5 linked regions of the Homo sapiens genome follow. The protein of the gene in region 2 purifies or fractionates together with the protein of the main gene of each other region. This does not show direct contact. Each region holds a gene or a part of one and is shown on either strand. Other genes may lie near its edges. The genes, in order: LCP1, CYP3A43, GCA, BPIFB1 and MNDA.

Region 1 (5,967 bases), on a different chromosome or scaffold from region 2:
TAAGACCATAGACTAACAATAATGTTTGTTTGGAGCATAGGGCTCAGTCTTGAATGTTTGGCACTCTAACCTCAAGAGGTTTTTTCAGAGCTCACTTTGCCTTTAGATATTTGTAACAAATAAGAGGACTTTTAACTTGCACTTTGCGAAGTAAGCAACTCACATTCATATACTATAGTGAAGGTACCAGATTAGGAGGAACTTGGTCTATTTCTTATCAAAACTATAGAGGAAGGTATAGGTCAAAGGGTTCAAGGTTGCAATTATATGGGATGAATAAGTGGAGATCTAAACAGCACGAGGGCTATAGTTAATAATATTGTGCTGTATACTGGTAATTTGCCAAGAAAGTAGATTTCAGGCACTCTTCCTACAAAAAAGAAAGAAAGAAAGAGATAGAGAGAGAAATGAAGAAAGAAAGAAAGAAAAAGAAAGGTAACGATATGAGATGTGAGTATGTTAATTTGCTTGACCAACAGTAACCACCTTACTGTGTATGTGTCTACCAAGATAAGTATACCAAAACATCACGTTACACACCTTAAATCTATGCAGGCTAGAATAAACATTTTTAAAGACCGTAGAAAATTCCATTTAGGGTTTCAGAGTTCTCAACTAAATATGTAGCTGTCAATCTTATTGCGTCTTCTCTCACCATCTTATCTGTATGTAAACAGTGACAGCCCCCTGGCTTAGACAGAGGTAGCCCACCTTGATAAGTATCATGCAAAACACGATGTTATCTTTTAGTTATCAGGTACAAATCCTACCAATATGAAATCTGTAGTCAAGTTCTAATCTTTAGTTATACATACTTTTTTATTTATATGTCCAAATCACAATAACCAATGAAAAATCCTGAAATATTATTTAAAAACCAATGTATTAAACATAATATAAAGAAGGCGGGGGAGAGGAAATAGGGATCTTAGAACCTGTGAGAAAGAATATTGATCTTCAAATAATGACCTCAGCTAAATTTAAACCTTCTAGCTGAGCAAAAAAATACTTACTCATCTGGGAAAACGTAGAGGAGAGTTGATTACATTGTTGAGTTGCTATAATTAGGCAGGTAAGCACTTGAAATATAAAACACCTATGGGAATAGACAAGAGAACATTGTTATTATTACAAAATTGATCTCTTAAAAGCAAAAATGTTGTCATATTGTGAAATGTGGTTTGACAGACCCAGCAAAACATCCGAGCCAGTAGCCTTGGTTATTTTTATGGCTCTGCCCAAATGTTCTTAAACATAGCGTTGAGATTCACTGTGCTTTGTTTTCTCCATCTGGAAAATGGAGATAATAAATAAGCTCACAATGGCTTACGCCTCTTTTTAGGGAATAATAATAAAATATTTAATCCATGGGAAAGGCTACAAGAACCTTTACCCCAAAGAGGTAACGTTGTTATCTTTAGCTTTTTAGCAGAGCTTAATGAAAGTTATAACCAACCCCCCTCCCCCAACATCGCTGCATTTATTTTTCTGTGGTTTTTGTGCTTCTTCAGCTCTGATTGCTCTTTTGAGAGAAGGTGAGAGCCTGGAGGATTTGATGAAACTCTCCCCTGAAGAGCTCTTGCTGAGGTGGGCTAATTACCACCTGGAAAATGCAGGCTGCAACAAAATTGGCAACTTCAGTACTGACATCAAGGTAGGAGGAGCGTTGTTTGAACATGACTCTCTGCAGGAGTGAAGGGGAATTTGGGCAATAATAAAGAAAAGATAAAGATTTGGGGCTTCCTCTCTTCAGAAGTTCCAGGGTAGTCTGGTGCTGTTTTGGAGGTGCTCACTGTCCTTGAGAGCCCATCTGCTGCTCTAGTCCTGGGCCATACACAGACCTGCCCAGAGTCCTAGTGCAGTGTCTCGATTGGAGTTTCCATATCAGGAAGTAGAGGGACAAAGGTGAGCTAGAGGAAGAGCAAGAGAACAGTCTGCTGTCCAAGTAAAGGGAATATATGTAGGTCTGTAATGTCTCTGGTTTCATAAATGGGAGCAGCAGATGGGAATTCCCTGTAAAAAATTAAATGAAGATGACTCTTCTAGTTATACTAATAACAGCAAACATGGTGTCTGCAACATGCCAGGCACTGTTCTAACTGATTTATATGTGTATTCTCTTATTGAATCCTTACAACAACCCCATGAGGTAAGGGTTATTATCCTCTCATTTTACAGATAAAGAGACAAAGAGGTCCATAGGGGAAAGGCTGAGGCAGGAATACACTGTGGTTTTCAAGTATATGAAAAGTTCCCTGTCAAGGTGAAAGAAAACAGCTATTGGCAATGATGACAGATGGATGAAGATAGAAAGTGGTTAAGGAGCAGAAAGGAATGGAAAGCGGTCCCTAGAAGGAAAGAGTAGGAGATGCTGGGATGCAACACCAGGAAAATACTTCAGTCTCCACTTTCTCAAACATTAAATAACTTTTCCCCAAAGAGAAAGAGTCAGAGGAAAGTTCACATGACTCAACAGGAGTACACCTAGGCTTGTAATTCTTTGAGTAACAGTTTCCCACTGCTATATGACGTGCATTCAGTGGCATTTAGAACTCAGCGTGTGTCAGGCACTGTGCCAGTCAGAGTCAAGCTTCTAGATGGAAAGCCCCCATTTTTTAGGATCTAAGCTAAATCCATCTTTCTAACTATGCATCTTTCATGGGCTATTAACATTCTTCTAGCACCACCAACCGACCTGGGTTTTAACAGGAGCTGGCTGTCATGCTCTCCCTTTGTGCTCAACAGTTAAGCTCTGCAATTGCAAAACTTTTCAGACAAAATTAGGCTGTCAGATCTCAGCTGTAAATTTACCTAATTTCCTGTCATTAAATGGCTGTGTTCTCTAGAACCACCATTTTGTGCTTTGGGAAGTGTCTGTATGAGATAGGAGCTGGCCAGATGAGCACTTACTTATACAGTGTTGTGCCTGTTCTCTGGCAGCCGCTGCATGGCAACTGACTCCGTGCTGTCATGTGTATGTCTGAGTAGCCAGCCAGCAACCTTGGGAGATGTCTTTAAATCGTGTAAATTGGCAAAGGCGAGGAGAACACCCAGGCTAGAGTGAGTGAGAAGGTTCATGAGAGTCAGGTGAAATGAGGTTACTCTTAGCCAAACTAAAAAGATGTAACCCAGGGCAGGCAGATGGTATTGGTGCCTGACACCTGCATGTGACTTTCACTGACTTCAAAATAGCTACAGTGAAAAGTCAGAGAAGGGAGGGTAGATAGAAGGGAGATGAAGATCATTTTCCCCAGGTGCAACATCAATGATTCACACTCTCTGGTTCTCCTCTTTCTAATGCCAAAAGTGGTGAGCATACCTCTCCTCTGCCCAGGCCTTACCTACCCTAACCAGTTGTAGAAACAAAATAATAGCTGATTTTTCGATCTTTATGAGAAATTGAGATGCTATTAAATGATTTAAATAAACTACCTGAAAATCTGTATGCTTTCATTGACTAAGAATAAATTTATATTTTAAGACTATAATTCTGAGAATTCTTTTTGTCAATAAGCATATTTTCAGAATCTAAGAAAACTTGAGAATTCAATACCTGTATCTAATCTGCTATAACTAAATTGAACCATTTTTCTAGCTTCTAGATAAATATGAAATGCACTTTTCTTAATATTTCTCCTTTTACGTAAAGATTGCTTGTTAATGCTTCAATCTTCTGTCTTTGACATCTTTTTCTCTTGCTGATTGTCCATTTAAATGTATTTTAAACTCGCTTTAAACTTGTGCTTCCTTTTTCTGTCACTTTTTTTTAATTAAACCTTAGCTGACTGACTTCTACAGCAATATAAAGGTATATATATATTTTCCTGTATACAATTTAATTCATGTAAATAAGTTGTTTTTCTCCCCTAAAGACAACAGAATAATATCCACTTCTTTAGGGTGCCTTTTGTGTATATCTTGTCTATTTTATTGTTACGCTCCTTTTAAAAAGAAAAGCAAATGTGATATGTAAAGAGACAAATAGAACATTCAAATTAGTGAATGTTTCTAGCTTTGTTAAGTTACATTCTGGAATGATAGCTGAATATGAAATAAAATGTTTGCTTTTGGGAAATCATTGTTATGCTAAGTATGTAATTAGCTGTGCTATTTTGAAATTGGAATTTCTTAATTTCTCACAGGACTCAAAAGCTTATTACCACCTGCTTGAGCAGGTGGCTCCAAAAGGAGATGAAGAAGGTGTTCCTGCTGTTGTTATTGACATGTCAGGACTGCGGGTAAGGCCAGGTCCCAGTTGTGTTTGGAGAATATGATGCTATTTTCATGTTGGCAGTTCCATTACCTTGTGTGGCCCTGATTCTGGAGTTCCATGACTGGGCATTTCTGCCTAAAGCCCTGTTAAAACGGTAAAACTGTGAGCAGTTTGGGATAATAATTGATGAAAACTGAATCTGGAAATACAACATTAAAGAAAGAAACCAATAGTAATTAAACACCATCCAGCATGCTAGGCAATTCTATATATGTTCATCATTTAGTAGACTCTATAACCCCACATGGGTCTGAATGTTATAATAAAACTTCTGTTTTGCCGCCACTTTAATACTGATCTTGAGAAGTCTCTTTGCCCGTTTCTGTGCCTCATTTAATATCACTGGAGTTAAATCCAATGAGTTCATGTTGAAGTCAACTGATTCCTAATGAGAAGTAGAGTAAAAGTAAATGACAAGTAAAGCTCATGAAATGCATAATGTGTAGCGTTATCTAGTAAAGGGTCATATTAAGAAATCATCCTAATTTAAAGTTTTGTTTTCTGAAAATTGGTGGTTTCATGTACTTTAAGGACAGTGGGCCATATTTCAGCAAAATTTTAGGGTTAAGAGTCACTTACAAATGGCTAGAGATTCTCTAGAATTATTTGAGCACATTGAGTGGTTCAAAATCTGAAGTCTGCAAAAATAAAATTGATATTATATATTTATCAATAATAATACATAGGTTAACTGATAAAATTTATTTTATTTGGGTTGCAAGTATACCAACTCAATGTGGAGACAGTGGTTATGCTAATCATATGTTCTTACTGGCAAGTGTAAATATCTTTTGTGAACTGGTTATGGGAATATAAATTAATAAATAAAATTTTTGATAGACAATCTCATGTCATCTGTGCACACAAATAATAAAAAGGAATCTTAATGGTTGGAAATAATTAAGATAAACTCAAATGATCAGTTTTCAGAATCTACTGCATCTCTTTTGAAACAGAGCAACCAACCACTCATCTGAAATAGTTTGATAAAGGAGATGAGAGATCCTTGTTACTTAACCTCTGAGATTCCTTTTACTTGTGACTTTCTGATTTTGGTGCAGGTGCATATAGGCAATAATGTGCTGTTATTAAGTGTCTGCCTGAGATAAACACTAATGATTTCAGTGAGATTCCCATTTCTTTTCACATTATGCAATCTGCTTTGTGCATGGAGAGCCTTGACCCAGCCCTGAGACATCCTTTTGCATTGCAGGAGAAGGATGACATCCAGAGGGCAGAATGCATGCTGCAGCAGGCGGAGAGGCTGGGCTGCCGGCAGTTTGTCACAGCCACAGATGTTGTCCGAGGGAACCCCAAGTTGAACTTGGCTTTTATTGCCAACCTCTTTAACAGATACCCTGCCCTGCACAAACCAGAGAACCAGGACATTGACTGGGGGGCTCTTGAAGGTAACTGTAAACGATTTGCCTAAGATGGGGAAAGGCACTCACAATTCTAATTCAATGGCAATTCAAACTCACTTCCTAAGCAAATATAAACTATTTACATGTGCAAACAGGCCATTAATTCTCTGGTATGCAACAAAGAGAATAAATAGATTCATCAAGTCAATTTCAGCCAAGCAGGAATAATCAAATACCATTCTATCACGTCCATTAACAAAGCGTTCATCCATTATCAGAATTAAATGTTTTAGGAAAGATAATGCATTTAGTTATTAGATGAAATAAATC
Region 2 (5,967 bases):
GTAGTATGTCAACCAAACCAGATCGTAAGACAAAGACATGCAATCCTTTAAATTTTACTATCTTAAAGCCAGAGCTACCTTTTTGGTCTACAGGACAGACAGCACTATTAAGAGTTGATAGGCAAGGAGCAGGCCTTAGAATTCCACTACTGATTGTCAAAAAGACTAGAAGAACTCAGATGTGTCCAACCCCACAATTCTGGGTTCATAAGTCATTCTATAAGCATTTTGATCAGCCGGTGCCCGAGCTTCCCCCATCAACCAAAAACTTATTTGCTCAACTAGCTGAAAACATAGCTGGCAGCTTAGGAATTTCCTCATGCTATGTATGTGGAGGAACTAATATGGGGGACCAGTGGCCATGGGAGGCAAAGGAATTAATGCCACAAAATAACTTCACTTCGCTTAACCCTACCAGTGAACCAACAGCCTCAACCAGTGTTTGGTTGTTAAAAACCTCCATAATTGGAAAGTACTGTATTGCCCAATGAGGAAAGGCTTTCACAGGGGCAGTAGGAGAAACAATCTGCCTAGGGCAACAGTATTATGATGAGACTAAAAACAAAACTCTATTGAAGAAATGCCCAGAACAACTCCTACTTACAAGATCAAAACCCTTTCCCTCCACTGTCTATTCTAAGCCGCACTTGGCATCGGCTAGAGGCTCCAAATGCTTAGAAAGCACCCTCTGGCCTATATTGGACCTGTGGAGCACAGGCATATCAGCTGCTGACTAAATGGACAGGGGAATGTGTGTTAGAAACAATCAAGCCATCCTTCTTTCTAATTCCTCTAAAGCCAGGGGAACTCTTAGGATATCCAGTTTATGATGAAAATAAAAGAACTAGAAGAGGCATAATCACAAAAATAAACACAAATATCAAAAAAGATGTGGACATAGGAGACTGGAAAGATAACAAATGGCCTCCTGAAAGAATCATTAAATACTATAGGCCAGCTACCTAGGTGCAAGAAAGGTCATGGGGGTACCGTACCCCCATCTATATGCTCAACTGCATCATAAGGTTGCGGGCAGTCCTTGAAATTATAACCAATAAAACATCAAGGGCACTAGATTTATTGGCAATACAAGCAACACAAATGAGAAATGCTATATATCAAAATAGGCTGGCTTTAGATTTCCTCTTAGCCTCAGAAGGAAGAGTATGTGAAAAATTTAATTTAACCAATTGTTGCTTAGAAATCGATGATAATGGCCTAGCTGTCATGAAAATCACAGCTAGAATGTGCAAGATGGCACATGTTCTAGTTCAGACTTGGTCCAGGTGGTCCCTGGATTCCTTATTTGGAGGATGGTTGTCAGCCTTTGGAGAATTCAAAACCCTCATTAGTGAGTTCTTGCTTATTTTTGGCATTTGCCTCATCCTCCCTTGCCTTTTACCCCTGTTTATTAGGAGTATTCAGTCAACTATAGAGGCAATAGTAGCCTGACACGCTACCGCACAGTTGTGGCATTAACCAGATATCAGCTGCTGCCGGTAGAAGAAAAAGCTCAGCTCCGCGAGGAGGTGGCAAATAGTGGTGCTTTCTATTAACACTTCTGTTGTAAAAAGCACCAAAGGGGACAATGGAACAGGAATTAAAAGAAATTAAAGAGTGCGTAAGCAGAAACTGAGTTGTATATGAAAAAAACCCAACTTCCCCTGAAAAAGAGAAAGAGCTGGAGTCTTTTAAAAACTAACTGCCTGTTTTTCTGAGGCTAGTGAGCCTTATCTCTCCTCCCTTCCCAGGCATTGCAAAGACCCTGTTTCCCTAGCTGTGCAGCTGCAAGGTCACTAGACAGATAAACTCAAGTCACAAAACGTGTTTTTCCTTGAAATGTAAGAAATGATGTAATGCATTTCTCAATTGAATAACTGTGTTTGTTTCTTACTTCTCTAGTATGCTTCCCTCTCCACAGATCTCCCCCCTCCCACGAAATGCTTAAAAGGTAACTAAACTCTTTGTTCAGAGCTCAGTCCTCTGGATGTTAATCCGACTGGGCTGGTGCACCTAAATAATTAATAAATATCCTCCTGAACCCCATCAGTCTCTCTGATTCCTTAAAATCCCACTACATTTCAATCCTCATCTTTTTTGCTGCCTCCTCTGTGAGACCCCAAAAAGTCACAATGATTAACTAAAAGCAGCTGAAGTCTGCATGATCCCAGTGCTAGAGTGAATGCTTAATAAATGTTCCCAAATTTGAGTGCCCTTAAGAGGTTCAGACTGGAATTCTTCCAGGGCATTTCATTCACGTATGTCTATTTAGTTAATTGATTCTTTCCTGATTTGGAAATTCTCTTTCTAGGTGTATTAGTCCATTTTCACACTGCTATAAAGAACTACCTGAGACTGGGTAATTTATAAAGAAAAGAGGCTTAATTGACTCACAGTTCTCCATGGCTGGGGAGGCCTCAGGAAACTTAAAATCATGGTGGAAGGTGAAGGGGAAGCAAAGCATGTATTACATGGAGGCAGGAGAGAGAGAAAGACAGAGAGAGAGAGAAGAGGTGTCACACTTTTTTTTTCTTGTTTTGTTGTTTTGTTTTTTTTTCTATTATTATTATACTTTAAGTTTTAGGGTACATGTGCACAACGTGCAGGTTTGTTACATATGTATATATGTGCCATGTTGGTGTGCTGCACCCATTAACTCATCATTTAGCATTAGGTATATCTCCTAATGCTATCCCTCCCCCCTCCCCCCACCCCACAACAGTCCCCGGTGTGTGATGTTCCCCTTCCTGTGTCCATGTGTTCTCATTGTTCAATTCCCACCTATGAGTGAGAACATGCGGTGTTTGGTCGAGGTGCCACACTTTTAAAACCATCAGATCTTGTGAGAATTCATTCACTATCATGAGAACAGCATGGGTGAAAACACCCCTATGATCCAATTCCTCCCACCAGGTCCCTTCCTTGACACATAGGGATAACAATTCAAGATGAGATTTGGCTGGGGACACAGAGCCAAACCATATCACTAGGTGAGGTTTTTTTTTTTTATCTTTTGAACTAATAATGAGTTTGTGTATCACTACATCCATTGAATTACAGAGGGTTACTGAGGCCCTTTGCTGACACCTTCTTTCCTGTTTTCTCAGAGGTGTTTATGCTTTTCCTTCCCTCTAAACACTGACCTTGTTTTAGGATCTGGCCATCCTTAAACATTCCTGCACAGAGGAGCTCTGGAAGAATCATAGTGTTCTTATTTCTATGGAATGACAACCATATTCAAGGCTTCCACTGGCTTCATAGAAATGTGAGCACCTTCCAGCTACACCCAAATCTCTGTGGTCAGATGATTTGATTGATATAAACTACAGTAAATGTGATTGACCTATATGTTCTCTGAATGGCACTATGCAGAGGAACCAATGACTAAAGAATAAATTTCAAGGCCATTCCTCCTCTTGTGCAATCTGGCCCTCCAACTGGTGATCCTTACTTGATAAGCACAATGCCAGTCATGCTCACTTTTTTTTTTTCTCAAAATGATCAGTCACACAGAGTCAGTTTACTGCTTCTGTACATCAACTATCCTGCAGGAAAACCCATTAAGTCTGGTGCTCCTTATGGCAGGCCTGCCTGCAACTCATCTTTGATGGGTTATGTGTGAACTCCATCAATTGCAGGTTCTGGATCCTTGCAGAACTTCCCACTCTGGTGTTACTGAGGGATGGAAGACTGGAGGAAAAAGAGAGGCTGCATCCCGCCGATGTAACCATGCAACTGCTGGTGCCACAAAGTAGGCCCTATAAGGGTAAGTTAGGAAAGTGTGGCTGAAAATTATGGTATGCATAAATAGTTTTAAATGCCCCTTATGTGCTTTCAGCTGAAAGAGAGGTCTTCCAAAATTCAGGAACATTTCTGTTGATAGAAAAGTTTCACTGTGCTACATAGCATAAGTAACCATAAAATATTCCAGACAGTTGAATTAGAAACTTGATTTCTCTTCTTTATAGGTTAGCTTTTCTTAGATCCTAAATATTCAGTACAAATAAATAAATCTTATAAAATGTGATAAAGCTGAAAAATTGCATGAAGAGAATGTGTTTGAAGGACCCCACAGTGGCACCCTGGCCAGGCCCAGCTGTTAGCTTGGTTCCCTCTTTGGGGATCTTTTCCTACTCACACATCGAAAATAACCTCTTGGGTTTCCAGTTGTTTATAATCCATTATCTGCCCATGCTAAATTCTGGTTGTTAGTCTAGGTAGATCAAAACTCATAGTCAATCAGAAAGCATCCCCAGGATTGAATGATGTCAGTAAACACTCTTAGTAACAGAAATTGGAAGTTGAATGAAGAGGAGGTGGATAATGTTTATTTACTTCTTCAACGGATCTGTGTAACATCTGTAGGGTCAAGAGAACATTCCTCTATGGAGGTTTGATATTTGAGTCTGAGAAATGAACTAACAGTAGATCAATTAATAGGAGATAATCCTTATAAATTTATCTCATGAATATGCATGGGAGCCTTGAAAGATATGATACTCAAAGAATGGCCTGATGATTGAAGCTTAAATAGCATTCTGAGCTATAAAAATGTAGTATCTTCTGATGGGGAGTGGGTGACACAAGACATGAGAGAGTGAGGGAAGAAAAAGCATGATAAACAAAAGTCATCTTATTATAATGTCTGTCAGGCATCAGTGCTCCAAAGAACAAGTATTATCAACCTTAGTCTCCCTTTCTGTGAGCTAATATTATTTTTTTCTTTTTTTTTTCTTTTAGACTAAGTTTTGCTCTTGTTGTTCAGGCTAGAGTGCAATGGCGCAATCTTGGCTCACTGCAACCTCTGCCTCCAGGGTTCAGGCGATTCTCCTGCCTCAGCCTCCCGAGTAGCTGGGATTGCAGGCACCTGCCACCACACCCAGCTAATTTTTGTATATTTAGTAGAGACAGGGTTTCATCATGTTGACCAGGCTGGTCTTGAACTTCTGACCTCACGTGATCCACCCACCTCGGCTTTCCAAAGTGCTGGAATTACAGGTATGAGCCACCATGCCTGGCCCTGCTAAGATTCTTTTTCATGAGATTATAGGGAGGGGGCTCAAGACCATTGCTTTTTTTTAGGAGGATCTTCCTTTAGGTATGAGAACTTCAGAGAAAGCCCCTTCCTATATTTTGGGAGAAATAGCAGGGTTGGGAGACAGGAGAACATAAGAGTTAGCTTGGTTCTGAAGACTTTCTGAGACCTTTCAATTTCCTTTGGTTCAAAGTCCTCAACATGCTTAAGTGCCATATTTTGGGGTTTCATTTTTGGAGCCCCAACTTTCCCCTGTCATAAACTTCCCTAGAAAATGTACATACTAAAGCTGAGTTGATGCTTGTGGAGAGGACAATTGAATTGGTAGCTGAGTCGCAAGGAATCACATTAAACCAGTATAAACCAGTCTCACATTCCTAGCAATGTCAATCCAGTTAAACAGCTGTGCCTCATTTCAGGAGGTGATGTTGCAGGTCTGCTGTCATGAAAGATAGGTCTGTATATGGTGCAGTTAAACAGGTACTTAATAAGAGGTCATTCTACCAAAGCAAAAGGAGACCAAAAGTTAATCATTTAGCAGACTAGTTTCTGAGTTCACAGGGCAGCCAGACAAAAAGATTTCTACATGTTGGTTTTGAAACAGCTCCAGTTGGAGTAGAGGTAGGCAATGGTGATCTGACAGATTTTTTTTCTCTCCTATAGCTCCTTAGGGCCAGATCTGAAAGACTTTAAGTTGTTGCAATTTCTCTGGAGTCTGCTCTATCACAAAGAATTCTGCAAAAATCACATTTCCTGCCTTTGTGGACCAAACCAATGTATTTCTTAAATGTATTTGATATCTCATGCCTCCCTAAAAGAATAAAACCAAGCTGCACCCTGACCACCTTGGGTACATGTTCTTAAGACCTCCTGAAGGCTGTGTCATGGGCCATGGTCACTCATATTTGGCCCAGAATAAATCTCTTCAAGTA
Region 3 (5,967 bases), on a different chromosome or scaffold from region 2:
TAAGTCTACAGAAGCATACTCATGTTTTAGTCAATGATTTAGAGTCAGATAAACTCAGGTATCAGAATTTATTTTTGTTAATAAAACTATCAGAGAGATCACACAGGAAAAATGGGATTTAATGCATTCAAAGAGCTATGGGCAGCTCTTAATGCCTGGAAGGAAAACTTCATGACTGTTGATCAAGATGGAAGTGGCACAGTAGAACATCATGAGTTGCGTCAAGCCATTGGTCTTATGGGTAAGAACATTAACATTCTTTAGAATCTATAAAGCTAATCTTTGTTCTTTGATTAGATGAACTTAATTGCTTCAATTTACTAACTAATAAAGGGATGTATTTTTTTGCCAGCAAGTTCCTTTGTTTGTTTTCAAGGTTGTAGGTAAATTCTGACCAAAGACCTCAACAAAACCATTTTAATTATGATTTTTTTCAAAAGATGATCTTCCATACATGCATACATTCTGAATTTCTTCTGTTGTGTTTAAATTTATTTCTTTGTTAGTACTTACCAGTTAGATTGTATTCTTTTATAACTTGGCAGGATATCTAATTGGGAGCCAAAGCTTGCCTCAGTCAGTCAAAAGTCTGTACAAAATAGGTTTTCAGTGGTAGAAACCATGTTTTTGTCTTTTTTTTCTTAGATAGTGCAGAACACATAGCAGGTGCCAAAATACATCAGGATGGAAAGGTTGCATTTTAGAGTAATTTAGAAGTATATAACTTTATTCTTATACCTCTGATAAGCTGATGTTCCTAGTGTACTTTTAAAATGGATAACATACAATGGTGTTTAATTTGCTTAAACTTAATGCAGTTTTAAGTAGCTTTATGAATTGTTCTTATGCTTGTGATTTACACTCTTCTAAACAAAATCTATTTGTATGAAAATTAATTTTTTGGAAGTTAAAATCTGAACCCAATGGAAGTGGGCTTATCTCAAATTGCAATTTAAATAAGTCAAATTAGTGATTTGTTTGGTTTTGTTTTATAAATAGACATTTTAATTTAGTAGTAGGGACAGTCCAGCCCATATAAACATATGTAGTTCAATTATAGATCCTTAATACCTAATGGATTAAACCTGGACCTTAATTCAGCCTAATGTTGGGAAATTAATGTAATCTTTGGCAGAAAAGAAAACCTCCAGAGTTCCCGTTAGGCAGTGGAATGTAAAAAGGGTATTCTGGATTATCCAAATTTAAGATCTTCATGTATATTTTAAAATATTCAAATTATTTTTCTGAGAATACTATGGGAAAATCTAGGAATTTTATCAGTACCACATTTAGCTCATAACTCTCTAATATGAAGTTCAAAATATATTTGCATATAATTACATTAGTTTGCATGTTTTACTGCTTCTTTCAATTTATACCTTTCCCACATTACATTCTATTATAGCTGCATGTATAATTTTCTCCTGTTACATTTATTTTGGTTGTTTTCACCTTTGAATTGATTAGTGTCATTTGTTCAAGTCTACAAATCCAGTAATGTATGGGCAATAATACTGGGCTACCATTCTTCTTAGTAAAATGTATACATCTCATTAAATGCATAGGACCATCTATAAGGGTACAGCAAGTAGAATATATTAATTTATGTTTTTATTCAGTTGTATTCGTTTTAAATTTTAGATTTTATGTATTTTTTAAAATAGGAGTAATCAAACAATAATACATGTATAGAATTTAAAATTAATTTAAACATACTGGGAGTGAATGATCAAAAACTTCTTTCTCATTGATATAAGTAAAAATCAAAGATTTTGGACATCACAGGACTACTGAACAAAGAACCAAGGAAATCAGTGAAATAGCGAGAAAGCTGTTATTATTATTACAGTGTATGAAGAAACACTAAGAATTCCAGGACAAAAAAGAATGTTTTTCTGTTTTTTTCCCCTGTAGAGTAATCATGTTGATCCTCAAATTTCTCTTAGTTATAAAAGATACTTGCAAGTAATATGTTCAGTGGGAAATATCATTTGAATAACAAAGATCATTAGTAATCTTTGCATTTATATTCTTTAAGAACTATACAAAGTTACATACTTGAAATATTGAAGCATTAAAACCCATGAAATTAGACATTATTTCAAAATAACAATATATGATAAATTCATAAGAAGAGAATTATTTTCTTTTCCTTAGCTTTGACTTTATTACAAAGTTAGAATTGTGATATTTATATACCGATTAACAGGATTAACAGTGAAGCCTTTGTCTGATGAATTTCAATATTCATGTGTTTTGTTTCTAATTATATTTTTGTGGAATGAATTTTGAAAGTTATTTTATGACTTAATGAGAAAGCAATCTTGCAGTGTTCTTATGTTATTTACATTTAGAAGTTTTAATTTATCTCTTTTTTAGGTTATAGGTTGAGTCCTCAAACATTAACTACTATTGTTAAACGTTATAGCAAGAATGGCAGAATTTTCTTTGATGATTATGTTGCTTGCTGTGTGAAGCTTCGAGCATTGACAGGTATTGACTATTTAAAACTAAGTGCACAGTGTTATGTAGCTATTTTTCTTGAATAATGTGTCTCATTTCCTCCAGCAAGTTTATAATAATATGTGTTTTCTCCCTTTATTCACTGTTAAATCTAATTAGTTTAAAGGCTTCAAATATTAAGGAATATAAATGATAAAAACGTTATGTTATTTTTGGAAGTTTTTCTCATATCTCTGTTGCCAGGGCTATTCAATCACTTAATATTTAATTGAATATGAAATTATTCTTTTTGTGTACCTGGGTGCACTAAATATTTGAAACTATGTATTTTAAATTACAATAAAAAAGTAATTTCTTTGTTTAAAGATTTCTTTAGGAAAAGAGACCACTTGCAACAAGGGTCTGCGAATTTCATATATGACGATGTGAGTATCCTGCTTTTGATATTTATACTGCATTCTAGATAGTTCTCAGTTAGTAAAAAAATTTAAGTGATCCCAAGTACCAGTACTGGAAATAATATATTTGGTATGCCACATACTTTTCCATATTTTTCAGTGTAACACAAATATAAGATTAATATTGGTATAGGTGCCAAACAATTTGACTTCATGTTAAATTGTAAATATGCTTTTCAATTTTTATGACAGGTTTTTTGAATTAAAAAAAAAATGATCTTTCAAATCACTTTTAAGGGCCAAAACCACCATTATTTTTAAAAAGGGTAGTTTACTGTAGTGATATTTTTTCTCAGGGAGGGAAAAATTTTAATCCGTGACGGATTATGAAGCTGTTCATTTCTCATTTCAAATGGTTACTATTAACCTGATATTCAGGGTTTTTTAAAATTCAAGGTATAAGACAGTTATATTTACCTGTGCTTTAATGTTTCAGGGTTTTTGTTTTGTTTTTCTTATATTTACTGATGGAAGTTATGGGGTCAACATTACTGATATTTATTGGCTTGAATTATAAGCCTTGGAAACAAACTTTTCTCTCTTAAGAAAATGCTCTTATGGAATATAATTAGTCAAAAATAATTAAAAACCATTTTATTCTTAATAGATAATAATTTCACTTATGTATTAGTTTTTGCAGGGCACTATGGCAATTTGAATGCTTAGAATTTTAAACCTGAAGAGACACTGTGAATTCTTTTGTTTGGAAGAAGTGAACTGGACTACTTTAAAACTTTTAAGGGTTTTCTATGTTCTTCCTACCTGTTAAACCTCTTCCCTTTCTGTGTGTTTTTATTTTAGCAGATAGTTCAAAGCAATAAAAGATTTCTTTTTTAATTTGAGGTATTACTGCTTTTGGAAAAGTTATTTTATAAATATGTGCATATTGTCATAAAATATTGTATGATTAATTGATTTAAATAATGCTTAGCCTTAATTTTAGATAATGTAAATTTAGAGGAATGTACTTTACAAGATAGATTGTATAAGAAGCCAAATAATGAAAGCCTAGAAAAAACTAATTTATACTTATCTGAAGGTTACAAATTAGACTTTTAAATTTTCTTTGTAGTTGGTGGTGTTTGAGGGTTGGCTAGAAATGAAAGCCTGGATTTTGTGCCATGTTTGTAATATAGTTTGTTCCTTGATCAAATAATCAGAGAAAAGAAACTTAAAGATCTTTGTCTGTGAAGAAGAAAATTATCTCCCTAGTTCAATCTGTAGTGAAATAAGACTACAGAAGGCATTGTTTTTTCCTTTTTTATTTTTTGTATTATATATTTTTCTTAAATATGTTTTATTGTCTTCTCTAAGCAAAAAGTTCTTAATAAACATAGTATTTCTCTCTGCGTCCTATTTCATTAGTGAAGACATAGTTCACCTAAAATGGCATCCTGCTCTGAATCTAGACTTTTTAGAAATGGCATATGTTTTTGATGATATGTCAACATTCAAAATTGTCCTAATTAAATTGTTGTTTAAATGTAATGTCAACTCTTTATAAACTTAAAAATAAACAAGTAATTAACCACTCTAATTGTTCAGAAATTTTACATTTGACTTATTTGACAACATTAACATTAGTGGTGGCTTTGCCATTAAAAACCCAGTAAGTATTTTGAGTGCATCTATGTGATGTGGTGTTTTGAGCATAGTAGGCACCACAGCAACTTTTCTGCGTGGTACTAAAACTGCCGAAAATGCGACGTAGAATCACCAGATCTTTAGTGTTTAATATCCCTGGTATAAGATGTTATAATTAATGTAATTTCTTTCTTGGCAAACACCTCATGTCTGTCTTAGTGAAGATTTAATAAACCACTTATTTTTCTTATGCTTTAAATGTGTATTTTCTAACCTAACAGTGAGTGACATAATTTTATGACTGCTGACCAAATTAATTTATAGATTTTATAAAATCCCATGTTTCTTAATGGATGGAGGATAGATGGCAATATCTTGAACAAAATCTTTTATAAACTTACAGAATTTTAAATCAGCCTTCACTTAAAAAAATCCTGGAAAGGAAGTAACGCATAGTCACTTGACACTGATAATTTTATATAATTTGCTGTCAAATTCACTTGGTCAGTTTTATAAAAATGTGTGAATAGGTAATACACATAATTTTGTTCTCTGGCTTTTTTATGAACATATATTTGATAATGTGAGAGGACATTAACTGAGCTGGGAAATTAAAGAAACAGAATTCTAATTAGAAGTGTTGTAGGAAAAAGCAAATGTGAAAACACTAAGTGTCGTTCACATCGAATGGTGATAATGTCGCTCAGCAACCTGTAATCTTAACATCCAGGTTATACAGATGGTCGTTACTGAACTATTCTGCGGTCGATTATGATTATCTCTCTTACTTGGAGGCTCACAGTTGAGGTAAAACTTTTAAAATGACAAATGGTATTATTCATGTAAGCTTCTGCCAGGTGACACTCTATATTAGAACTCTTTAACACAATTTTCATTTAAAAATGTTCTTATGACTTTTGGTCATAGAAGGTCTATGAAGGAGCTTCCATGGCCAAACATATTTAGAAACTCTCACTTTCTAAAGCTTGACAAGGTATATTAGCATCTGAAACCCCAAGGTTAATAAAATCAGTCATGTTTAATTTTATTTGACCCAGTTTTTTCCAAACTTTTTGACCACAGAACCCCTTTCTCTAGCAAAACCTAACATTCTATGCCGATCCAACTTAATTGCCAGGCAACTCTTCTGCACTTTACATTAAACAGACAAACTTATGTTAACAAAAACATTAGGCCTAGAGAATATTTTACCAGAATTTTTATACTGAAATACAGTTCACTTTTTCGATGCTTTAAAAATAACTGATATTTTTATGATGAACATGACTGTAATATGAATATAGTATAGTAGTTTGCACTGGTTAACTTACACCCCAGTTCTTTTACGATGATGTAAATTATTGAATAATGTACACTCTTAATGTATAAGTGCTTTTATTTATACAGTAAACATGTTTCCATGTCATTTTGAGAATTTTTTTAATAAACATTCAAATAGCTT
Region 4 (5,967 bases), on a different chromosome or scaffold from region 2:
CAGCTGCCGCTGCTCAGTGCCATGCGGGAAAAGCCAGCCGGAGGCATCCCTGTGCTGGGCAGCCTGGTGAACACCGTCCTGAAGCACATCATCTGGTGAGTGGAGCAGGACCACACCAGGAGCTAGCCCCTTCCCACACCTTTGCCCGGGACACGCTCTGCATGCTCAGTCAACCAGTCTGCAAGCATCGACTTGTGTCAGATCACAAAGAGTGGATCAAACAAAGCCCCTCCGTCAAGAAGCTCCCAGAATAGTTAACAAGAACCATAAGACAGTGACACAGGAACCCTAATACAACAACCCCAGAGCAAGGCCAGGGACGGTGGCTCAAGCCTGTAATCCCAGCACTTTGGGAGGCCAAGGTGGGTGGATCACCTGAGGTTAGGAGTTCGAGACCAGCCTGGCCAACATGGCAAAACCCCATCTCTACTAAAAATATAAAAATTAGCCAGGCATGGTGGCAGAAGCCTGTAATCCCAGCTACTCAGGAGGCTGAGGCAGGAGAATCGCTTGAACCTGGGAAGTGGAAGTTGCAGTGAGCTGAGATGGTGCCATTGCACTCCAGCCTGGGTGACAAGAGTGAGATTCTGTCTCAAAAAAAAAAAAACAAAAAAAAAAAAACAACCCAGAGCAAGGTTGTCTGGGGTGGCACAGGGAAGGGATGAGGTGATGCTTCTCACTGGAGGTGACAGTGGAGCCGATGACTCAATGCTCACCAGGAGACAAGAAGCAAATGGCATCCAGGTAGAAGAATCAGGCTGGGCAAAGGCATGGAGAAGTGACAGTCGGTCAGAATGGCTAGAGCTCAAACCTCAAGGCAAGGAGTAAGGGATCAGCAGGGTCAGGTCACAGAGGGTCTTATGAGTCAGCTCAAGGAGCTGGGAGTCACCACCTAGAAGAGAAGGCACCATAATAGCATTGTGAGCAGGAGTGGAGGGGAGGGATGGAGGCAAGACCATCTGGAGAGGAGTCGGTGGGCAGGGCCAGGGTCCCGCTGCTGCCTAGGCACCCCAGGGAGATGGAAAAGATAGAGAGGGAGTGGATTTGGGAATAATGAGCCGGAGGCATGATTCTGATCTCTCCTAAACCCCATCCAGGCTGAAGGTCATCACAGCTAACATCCTCCAGCTGCAGGTGAAGCCCTCGGCCAATGACCAGGAGCTGCTAGTCAAGATCCCCCTGGACATGGTGGCTGGATTCAACACGTGAGTGACCCCTCCATCAAGTACAGTAGGCTTGACAGGCTCATCTGCTCGTTCCCCCTCCCCCGCCCCCACCATGCAGGTGTCTGGAAAAGAGAGTTCCGAGCAGAGAGAAGAGCAAGTGCAGAGGCCCTGTGGCAGCAGTGTACTTGCCTTGCTCAAAGAATGGCAAAGACAGGGGAAAGAGAGAGGGGGCATGGTAGGAGATGAGGCCAGCAGGCAGCCGAGGCCAGATCATACAAGGCCTCTTGGGAGAAGATAAGGACTTGGCTTTTGCTGAGTAGGACGGGAGCCAGGGAGGATTCTGAGCAGAGGAGGGATATGCTGTGCTTTCACATTTTTAAAGACTCCTGGCTGCTGTGGGGAAAAAAGACTTTCTGGGGGTAAGAGTGGAGACAGGAAGGCTATCCCAAAGCTACTGCAACAATTCAGGAGGAGATAATGATGGCTTAGACCAGGGTTTGGGGCAGGGAGGTGCTGAGAAGTTGATTGGATTCTGGATATGTTTTGGAGGTAGGTGGGGACACCAGGATATCCCGGGGAACTGAATATGCATGTGTATTCAGGGGGAAAGAGAGAGAAGTCAACGATGACTCCAAGAGTTCTGCCTGCACCACTGGCAGGATGGAGTGGTCAGTAACCAAGACAGGCAAGGCCATGAGAGGAGCAGGTCTGGGGAAGAGCCAGTCCAGTGTTGCATGCGCTAAACTTGAGAAGCCCGTGAGACATCGGAGTAGGGGGCTGGGGGTAAGTTTGGAAGCTGTCAGCAGACGAAAGACGTTTCAACCAAAGAGGAGTCTGAAAACTGAGCCTGGGACATGCTGGGGTGAAGTTGGGTGAAGATGAGGAGAAACCAGCAAAGGAGACTGAGGAAGGAGGTGAGGGCTGGAAGACAGAGACGGACGGCAGGGTTGCTCCAGCCCGAGCTTGCCTGGTGCTCACATGGTCAGGTGCCTCCACCCGCTAGGCCCCTGGTCAAGACCATCGTGGAGTTCCACATGACGACTGAGGCCCAAGCCACCATCCGCATGGACACCAGTGCAAGTGGCCCCACCCGCCTGGTCCTCAGTGACTGTGCCACCAGCCATGGGAGCCTGCGCATCCAACTGCTGCATAAGTGAGTGTCGCTGGCCACCAGCCGGGCTCCCATCCTGCCTGGAAGGAACGCCAGGCAGTGGACTTCCCCCATTTTACAAATGGAGAACGCTGAGGCCTAGAGAAAGAAAGGGACTTATCCCCTCCTGATTCCTGATCTGGGGCTCCTTCCAGGGAATCTGTGATGCCAAGGGAAGTTCAGGACATCAAGGTCAGAAGCAACCATGGTGGGTTTCAGGCATGACACCGGGAGGTGGGGCAAATCTTTGAAGGGGGAGGCCTAGAAACTCCTCCAAACACCAGGGCAGGTGTAGGTGGAGCCAGGGGCAAAAACATAGGCTTTGGGTCAGGCCAACACATTCTCTTCATTTGCTCTCCGGGTGATGATGGCCAAGTGGCCACCCTGTGTCTCACTTTCCTCACCCGTAAAGTGCAGGTAATGACACCTTCCAGGCAGTGGTGAGAAAACTGATCAGACAACAGCCATCAAGCACTCAGAACAGTGCACGCGCATGGTGGTGCCAAAAAACATGGCGCCCCCCCTTCCCTTCTTAGCAGGAGGACAGGGAGAAATGCCAGCTCCCATCATCCCAATGCCCAGCATAAAGTTCCAATGACAACACCCAGCCGCTGCTTTCTGATAACTCTTTGCCACTGCCTACACCTGGCTCAGGGGCTACTCCCAGCCCCGTCTCTAACACGTCCTGTGACCTTGGGCAGGTTCCTTCCTCCCTTAGACTCAGCCTCCCCCTCTGTAAAATAGAGGAAGGGGTGATCATCTCTGACCCTTCCTAATGTCTCTCGTGCTCTCTTCCCTGAAAGGCTCTCCTTCCTGGTGAACGCCTTAGCTAAGCAGGTCATGAACCTCCTAGTGCCATCCCTGCCCAATCTAGTGAAAAACCAGGTGAGTGGAATCAGGGCCTCTCTGGCCTGTGGGCATTGCGCCCCCTGTGGGGCTTGGGTGGAACTGCAAGTTGGTGCTAAGTGACTGGAGTCTCCTTGGGTGGGTTTTGCTGAAAGAATTATCTGGGGCTGGATAGCAAAGAGTCATGGAGTGGGGTGGGCCATTGACCCAGGCAGACAGGCAAGGTCATGGGACTGCTAAAAGTCAGCCAGGAGCCCGTGAACAGTGACGTGCTGATAAATTTTTAGCAATTGTCTCTGGAGGGGTTGTTGAAGGGAGGCAAACCTGATTTGTAGCTTTTGCGGATTTCCCTGGTGGAAATACTCCCTTCAGGGCCAATTTTAGGCGACCAGTGTGATGTCACTGAACAGAGTTGGGAAAAGATATACAATAGCACACGATTGTATATTTCCACTAAACAGATACATAAACATGATCTCAGGAGTAATAGATAGTAGTAAAATACAGCAAACTAATTAGGAAGCAATGCGTTTTAAATTTTTATTAAATTTGTTTTAATATAATTTATTTAATTGTAAGTTTATATGTCTAATTTGTAACAATGTCTGGGCTTAGCACCCAGCTCAGAAATTTGTGGAAATTTAACAATTGGTTCTCAAAAGCTAGTACAAGCTGGCTCTAGCACGGCACTGTCACACATCAATCTGGCTGTGGTATTCAGGGCTGCACCACCCACCAGGTCCTGTTGGATTTTTTTTCTGCGTCAGTAAACACAGGTGACTCTCATTTTAGTTGCCCCTATTTGTCACAGGTATACTAAAACTTTGTAAATTGAATTCATCCACATTAACCAGTGATTTCCACTGTAAATTCCAAGATGTGTTCGTAACAATGGGCCACCCGATCTAGGGTCAAAACACCTTGTCAAATAGCTAATATTTCTTGGAATAAGACTTTTTTCTTTGATTTTTGTTTTTGTTTGTTTGTTTTGAGACAGAGTCTTGCTCTGTCGCCTAGGCGGGAGTGCAGTGGCGCAATCTCAGCTCACTGCAACCTCCGCCTCCCGGGTTCAAGCAATTCTCATGCCTCAGCCTCCCAAGTGGCTGGGATGACAGATGAGCACCACCAGGCATGGCTAGTTTTTATATTTTTAGTAGAGACAAGGTTTTCGCCATGTTGGCCAGGCTGGTCTCAAACCCCTGACCTCAGGTGATCCGCCTGCCTCAGCCTCCCAAAGTGCTGGGATTATAGGCATGAGCCACTGTGCCTGGCGACTTTTTTCTTTGAAAAGATGATGTAATAAATGAAAAAATTTGGGGAAAAAAAATCCATAATCCTTTTACTTTCACCCAGGAGCGCTTTGATCTTTTGCAGATTGCCTTCCCACCTCCATCCACATGCACTAGTATTTTTAAGAGGCTGCTCTTGGTGTCAGCCTTTAAATCAGATCTATGTTTCAAAGTCATTATACAATACTTGTAATTATTAAATAGGTACATTGGGTTTAATAATTTACGAAAACATTCCAGCAAATCCTTTTTTAAATAATGTGATTTTATTAAGAGTACTTTAAAATGACAGTAGCAATATTTAAAACAGTATTTTAGGCCAGGGCCAGTGGCTCACACCTGTAATCTCAGCACTTTGGCAGGTCGAGGCGGGAGGATCACTTGAGCCCAGGATTTGCGACTTGCCTGGAAAACACAGAGAAACCCATCTCTACAGAAAAATAAAAAATTAGAATAGCTGGGCATGATGGTGTGCCCCTATGGTCCCAGCTACTCAGGTGGCTGAGGCAGAAGGATCGCTTGAGTCTAGGATGTTGAGGCTGCAGTGAGTCACAGTTGTGCCACTGCACTCCAGCCTAGGCATGACGGCAAGACTCTGTCTCAAAAACTAAATAAATAAATAACACTGCTTTATATAAACAATGTGATTCTTATTAAGAGTACTTTAAAACAATGGAGATTTTTATTTTTCTCCAAGTTGGCTTCCATGTCCTTACCTTCAAGAAAAATACAGTAAAACATTTAATCTCCATTTTGTGAAATATACATCAACTGTACAATATACTATTACGTTTGTTTCTCTAATAAGCTGGAGTTATGATTTTCAACTTCTGCTTCTGCACTAGTAAAGCTTAAGAGTAGCATGTATAGTCAAAGGAAGATCCATTATTTTAATAGTCGAAATATCTACATATTAAAGAGGCCAGGGAAAAATAAGTGAATAATCAAAAACTAAATAAAGCTCAAATAAGATCTTAAAAGGTTAATTTCAGAAGCAATACTGATTCAGCCCAATTCAAGCTACCTTTCTCCAGTACTTTTTTGGAAGAGAATGGGGAGAGACAGAGAGAGATGAGAAGGGAGGGAACCAATATAATGAATTAATGAATTGTGTGATATAATGAATATAATGAACAATGAATATAATGAATTGTGTGATCTCAAAGTTCAAGACAATGGCTTCTTATAGGTAGAATGTTGAGACTCCGACCTTTTAGCAAAGGTACGTATCCAGGGAGTTTTTTAAAGGGAATCCAAAAGTGAAAAACTTCATAACATTGGAATTTTCTTATGTAAGAAAGAAAATTTTGTTTCTTTGAATAATTTTATTTATCTGTTTCAAGGTGGGAATTTCATAAAGTAGGACCCAGCTGTAGATTTTCTTCCCAGCCTCCAGCAAAATCATATTTTATCTGGCATCACACTTTAATAGTTAAAAATATATTTTCCAGTAGAAAAGATGACAAAAACTTGGAATTATACAATGCTCCTTGCATAGTATCTGTCTTTAATGGTG
Region 5 (5,967 bases), on a different chromosome or scaffold from region 2:
ATTGTTCCAGATGCTTGCTTGTAAAGTTGACTGATCTTGGGAGTTTTATTTGCTATTTCGATAATTCTGTTTGGGACCTCAAAATTTTGATTAAAGTCAGACACAGATGATGCTTCCTTTATTTCCATTACTCCTTTACATTCAGAGTAATCAGATATGGTAATGACCTTCTTCCTTACAAATTTCTCTTTCAAGTTGATGTCGAAGACTTTCACATGGAAATATTGAGTCTTACTGGCCACTGTAGCATGAAACATTGTGCTTTTCCCATTTTCTGGGGACTCGTATTTAAATGGCGCTGTTGCTTTCAGTACCACCACTGTCACTGGGTCGTTTTGGGGAACATTTCTTCTTGCATCCACCTGCCGTTGGGCCTGGGTTTCCTGATTCTGTGTTGGGCAGACACAAGAAAATAAACTTAAAACTTTGAGCAGGAGGCCGGGCGCGGTGGCTCACGCCTGTAATCCTAGCACTTTGGGAAGCCGAGGCGGGTGGATCACGAGGTCAGAAGATCGAGACCATCCTGGCTAACATGGTGAAACCCCCATCTCTACTAAAAATACAAAAAAAACTAGCCGGGCGTTGTAGCGGGCGTCTGTAGTCCCAGCTACTCGGGAGGCTGAGGCAGCAGAATGGCATGAACCTGGGAGGCGGAGCTTGCAGTGAGACCAGATCGCACCACTGCACTCCAGCCTGGGCGATAGAGCGAGACTCCGTCTCAAAAACAAACAAACAAACAAACAAACAAACAAACAACAACAAAAACTTTGAGCAGGAATACAAAGTCACTCTGCACGAGTGACTCTGCAGAGCTTTCGACCCAACAACTTTCACAGATATTTGGAGCTGGGGGCTAGGCTAGACAGGGATTACTGAACAGAAAGGAAAGGCACATGAGCTGGTAAAGTTTAGCTACTGAAAGCCTAAGGTAACAGACAACAGGCTTGGAAATTAAATCACCCTCATTGACTCAGAATAATCTTCCTGAAGCAAAGCATGATCTTCTGCATGAACAATCTAGAGTAGCAGATGATGAAAACATTGTTGTGAAGAAACTTTAAAGAAAGATTAGAATATAATAACAAATCCAAATATCTCCTCTACCTACTGAAATTATCAAAGACAATCAACAAAGTGAAAACAACTTGGACAGCATTAAAAATGAAGAACCATGCCCACCAGAAGCCTCAAACATCATTAGATGTTCTAATGATCAAACATTCATTAGAAATTCTAATGATCACTAGTGTACTCTGCCATTTTGAGGGCCAAACTCGTTTGTTTCTTCCCAAGAAACAGTGCTTTTACAAGTGGAAAGACTTGGCCTGGCTAGCATGTAAGTAGTCTCAGGTAGAGGATTTCTGGTTAGAGCTATGTCCTCGACTGTGTATACACAGCATTTCACAGTGGCTAAAATGCTAACAACAATGGAAAAAGGACAAGTTTGTTTATCTCGTATGTCCTCTCTCCACAGTGTCCTGGCCTATTTGAGTTGCAGCAGAATACTTTTCTGAAGAGAACGTTGGCAGATCTGTAATAGGAAGTGTGGGGAGCAAAGATGAGCCATGGGCTTGTATGTACTGGTACTAGGAGCCAGGCTACTTACCTGCACAGACCAGAAATGCTTAGTGGTCTGTCCTGGTGTTTTACACACAGTGATTACCTGTAGGTAATTGGACTTTACTTGCATGTGGCTTCTCACCAATGTAAACAAGTTATCATAATATGGAAAACAGTTTTCCCACAGCAAATCAGTAATATGAAGAGTTATGCATGAGAGTAACAATAGTAACAGTGGAATGCACTGTGACTGGGTTAAAAAAAAATGGAGAAGAGGACCAGGAAGAGTGTACCGGAGTAAACGAAGTGTTGGATGGAGTTGATGATGAGGTCTGGGGTAGTGGGGGATGATCCACAGCTGCAGATGTGCTGGCTCCTGAGGGACCTGGGGGCTTACTCTGCTCTTGGGACACCTTATTCCTTTTGGCTTCAGTCTTTTCTTTGTTTGGAGTTTTTCTTTTCTGAAAGTAGTTTAATTTTCCTGTTAATGGAGTTTAGTATCAAAAGAAGCAGAGCAAGTTTTCATTTTTTCATTACAACATAGTAAGTTCTATTTATGTTGGATGGGATGTCCTTGGAAACCCCAGGGAATTACAATCTGTCACTTGAAGATATGGACAATAGATAATATTGGGCATAGATTGTTGCACTAAAAAGGAGATGGATGATTTCAACAGATGCATTACTGTTATCACCACTGTGGTGTGATGAGAAGAGCACTGGACTTGGAATGAGAAAATCTAGATTTGTGTAAGGATGGGCAAGATGTATATCCAATATGATTATTACCCCATTTTTATAATGGAGATGATAATATATTTATGTCACAGAAATTTTTTATTACATTTTTACGATACCTAACTCTTTACTCATCACAAAGAAGATCCATAATTACTAATTTGGTAAATCTAAGCTGTGTTGAGATATTAGTAAAGAGCCACGTGCCATAGCAGAGTATCTTCTGTGAGGCTTCAGTCCTGCTCCTCTTTCTCAAGCTTACCTGAGCTACAGGAATCCTCCCTCTTGCTTCCGATGTCAGTTTGTTTCTTGCGGTGGGTGCAGGTGCCGCAAGACCCACTTCTTCCTGGTTTATTTTTTTCACTGGAGCTTTTTCTTGTGTTTTAATTTTCTTAGCAACTGACAAAAGAAAAGAAAAAGGGCACAATAGGCCTAGAGTGGAATAGCTTATCTAAGACAGCTGAGGCAGTTTCAATATTACCTGCTGTCAGCTCCTGCATGAGAGTTCGGATTTGCCTGTTACCTCTACTGCATTAACCCAGCCTGGCTCCTAGGAGGCCAACAGCAGCATGGTAGGCATAGGCACTGTCTCATTCTCCTCAGTGCTTTACTCACTCCTCCCCTTTGCAGTGAGAACATGCTTCCTTTCCTGTGAACTCCATGTGCCTCAATCAACCCTTTCTCAGTCTTGTTCTCCTACCATTTCTTTTAAATATCTAAGGCTTTCATGATGCTGACAGGCTGGTCATGTTCTGTGCAATATCTGTTCAAATGACAGAAATATGACCTGAAAGGAAATATGATCTGAATTGTAATGTGGCAAAGTGCTAATATTGGCTTTTGAATTAAAAAAAGAACAGTGATTTATTAAGTGGAAAAATTCTACACGTCTCTTAATAGAACTATTGCTGCATAAATTGGTTAAATATAAATATTTCAAATAAAACACATTTTTTAAAGTAGCTTTTTTTTTCATTTTCTGACATTTTTGATTTACTGAAACACTCACCGTCTCATAAATCCCTGTCTTTGGTTTTTTATCCTTACCTCAAATACATTCTTCTAAATATATCAATCTCTTTCATATGAAACAGAATGTTCTAAATTGCCAACTGGTCAGTCTCTGAGGTGCCAACATCCCCATGACTGCTGAGTTATAAATTGGAAAAGGGATGTACCAGCTATGACCAAGGTGGGGTTCTACTGAAGACTGGGGAGACTCAAGGCAGAGTAGCTATGTGCAAGGTTTTCTCTATTACCTTTTGACTTCTCTTTTCGAAGATTGTTAACAAGGTTTTTAAGTGATGGCATATCTTTGGCAAGTTCTATTAGTTTGTCTAGACAGGCAACGCCTTGGAACTTTTTTTCCATCAAATCTGTAATCTTAATTCTGTTGTATTCCTCTTGCATTTTTGTAGTTAGTCCTAAATCATAGGCCAGTAAGGACTTAATTGATGTAAAATGATAATCATCCATGAGCTCAAATCCTTTCAGCAAAAGAATTTTCTTGTATTCATTCACCATTTCTGATGTTATAGCTTGGCCTATAAAGTAAAAATGACACACAACATTACACATTTATGCAGACAATTTTAAAAAATGAGATATGCTTTTGTGAGTGAGTGTCCCAGGCCAAAATGTTGTCCTTGGATGCGTATAAGAAAAAGGGACTAAGTTACCAGATATGTCACTGTGAACAATGGATCAAGACTTGCTTTATTAGGAGGTTCAGTGAAGTTCTTCCCTTTTAATGTTGATAAGTTGGGACAGAGGTGTATGTGGTGAAATGATGTTTGGAAACAGGTAATTGTTGCAGTATTTATAGTATGGGTTTTGTGGTGTCAAAGTCCCTGGTTCCTCTTCTGATATTTTATTGGGGCCTGAGCCTATCCCTCAATGCCTACCTCTTGGTTCCTGATTCTTCCCTGATTCTTCCCTGATTCTTCCTGGTCATCCACTATGACCAAAGTGGCCTAAGTATAAATGGGCTGCAGCCACTCACCTTATGTGAATAACCTTCTGCCACAGCACTACAGTTCTGAGTTGTGGAATGGACTCTAGTCCTTCTTGGCTCTCCCTAATCAGCTCTCGTTAGCACTTTTTCTCCCTGGGGCTTAGAACTTGTTCTCTGTGTCCTATGCATCTATAAAATTGTCATTTTGCCATCCTCCTATCTGCTCTCTAGTGTGGAATTGCAGCATTTATTTTTTGCACATTTGTTTTTTACAGTCAATTATTTACCTCCAACTAGTCTTACTTTTACTAAAAGGTTTCTGTCAGACAACCAAGTAGGTTTCTTTATGGATAAAGACATGACTCTATTTTTCCTGAAATCCTTCAATGAGTTTTGATTTTTATTAGTATAGATTTCTACTCAGCATGACTTGAAAGGCCTTGCATAAACTGTATCTTTCTTTTTGTGTGTGTCTGTTACTTTTGAATTTCTTATACCTTATGCTCTAGAAATACACAATATGTCTTTCTTTTTCAGGTCTTCTTACTGCTAATTCCCTTCCTGCTATCTGGGAAAGCATTCCCAGTTTTCTTCCTCTGAATACTTCCTTAGAGTTTTTAATGCTTAATTGAGGCTTTATCTTCTGCGAGCTGTTGTGGTCCCACTCTCACTTATGTGTGCCTCTTTAACCCCTTGTGTACTACCTAAGGGCATTCAGTTCCTAACGTATATTCCAATTTTCTGTTTAAATTTATAGGTATTCCTTTAGGTTGGTGACCATGTGTTTGTGCAACTTTTATATAATTAGAGTGTCCAAATTCTTAGGGCTGTAAATTGTTCTCTTTTGGGAGAACATGAGTGTTCCTGTGTTTAAACCTATCAGATAAAGAGAAATTTCACACATGGGCACATATAGTAAAGCCAAAGAATATTAAAAGCAAAATGATAAAATCTTCCAGAAATACTGAGTAGAACACCTACAAAGATTAAATAATCTGATTGAACAGTCTGCAGCAGGTTAAGAAAGTAATTTTTACATAGTACTGATCCATAATTATATGTCTGCAATTTTAAAACCTAAGAAGATACTGAAGGATGAAAAGATTTGTGCGGTTTGGGGGCTTGGGAAGGGATGAGAGTTAGCAGGGAAGTGTGGTAGCAAAATCATCTTGCAAATTAGAGATATAATGTGAAGTAATACGTGGCTGATATGGTTTGGCTATGTCCCAACCCAAATCTCATCTTGAAATATCATCTTGTGATAGTGAGCAAGTTCTCATGAGATCTATGGTTTTATAAACATCAGGCATTTCCCCTGCTAGCACTCATTCTCTCTCCTGCCACCCTGTGAAGAGGTGCCTTCCATCATGATTGTAAGTTTCCTTAGGACTCCCCAGCCGTGCGGAACTGTGAGTAAATCAAATCTCTTTTCTTTATAAATTACCCAGTCTCAGGTATTTCTTCATAGCAGCGTGAGAAGGAACTAATACAGTGGCTATTTTTAATCTTCCTTATTCATCTCACTTTAATGTGAATAGTGGCATGATTTGTTGAAGAACTCTTAATGCATTTGATATTAGGATGTTGATATTACCTCTACTGGGACACTTGCAGTGCCTACATACAATGTATGCATTAAGTAGTCTTTCTAAAATCCCCCCCTAAAAAAATGAATTAAAAATCAGAGTTGTCCCAGGGGTTTCAGGTGAAGTGCT

The links.
Region 1: the proteins of CYP3A43 (region 2) and LCP1 purify together in Homo sapiens (affinity purification with mass spectrometry; one large-scale study listed by BioGRID and IntAct). This does not show direct contact.
Region 3: the proteins of CYP3A43 (region 2) and GCA purify together in Homo sapiens (affinity purification with mass spectrometry; one large-scale study listed by BioGRID and IntAct). This does not show direct contact.
Region 4: the proteins of CYP3A43 (region 2) and BPIFB1 purify together in Homo sapiens (affinity purification with mass spectrometry; one large-scale study listed by BioGRID and IntAct). This does not show direct contact.
Region 5: the proteins of CYP3A43 (region 2) and MNDA purify together in Homo sapiens (affinity purification with mass spectrometry; one large-scale study listed by BioGRID and IntAct). This does not show direct contact.

What each region holds. Positions count from the first base shown.
Region 1 is NC_000013.11:46,146,623-46,152,589, reverse strand, and holds part of LCP1 (plastin-2), read left to right. Parts: intron 1-1,511; coding exon 1,512-1,654; intron 1,655-3,781; coding exon of another isoform or gene 3,782-3,973; exon of another isoform or gene 3,974-4,075; intron 4,076-4,142; coding exon 4,143-4,238; intron 4,239-5,486; coding exon 5,487-5,682; intron 5,683-5,967.
Region 2 is NC_000007.14:99,829,289-99,835,255, reverse strand, and holds part of CYP3A43 (cytochrome P450 3A43), read right to left. Parts: intron 1-5,967. UniProt on the Homo sapiens protein: Exhibits low testosterone 6-beta-hydroxylase activity.
Region 3 is NC_000002.12:162,356,665-162,362,631, forward strand, and holds part of GCA (grancalcin), read left to right. Parts: intron 1-93; coding exon 94-241; intron 242-2,379; coding exon 2,380-2,493; intron 2,494-2,829; coding exon 2,830-2,888; intron 2,889-3,552; coding exon 3,553-3,579; 3' UTR 3,580-5,967. UniProt on the Homo sapiens protein: Calcium-binding protein that may play a role in the adhesion of neutrophils to fibronectin. May play a role in the formation of focal adhesions.
Region 4 is NC_000020.11:33,288,788-33,294,754, forward strand, and holds part of BPIFB1 (BPI fold-containing family B member 1 precursor), read left to right. Parts: coding exon 1-95; intron 96-1,097; coding exon 1,098-1,205; intron 1,206-2,169; coding exon 2,170-2,319; intron 2,320-3,119; coding exon 3,120-3,201; intron 3,202-5,967. UniProt on the Homo sapiens protein: May play a role in innate immunity in mouth, nose and lungs. Binds bacterial lipopolysaccharide (LPS) and modulates the cellular responses to LPS.
Region 5 is NC_000001.11:158,840,009-158,845,975, reverse strand, and holds part of MNDA (myeloid cell nuclear differentiation antigen), read right to left. Parts: intron 5,662-5,967; exon of another isoform or gene 5,580-5,661; intron 3,843-5,579; 5' UTR 3,823-3,842; coding exon 3,558-3,822; intron 2,698-3,557; coding exon 2,561-2,697; intron 2,022-2,560; coding exon 1,854-2,021; intron 390-1,853; coding exon 1-389. UniProt on the Homo sapiens protein: May act as a transcriptional activator/repressor in the myeloid lineage. Plays a role in the granulocyte/monocyte cell-specific response to interferon. Stimulates the DNA binding of the transcriptional repressor protein YY1.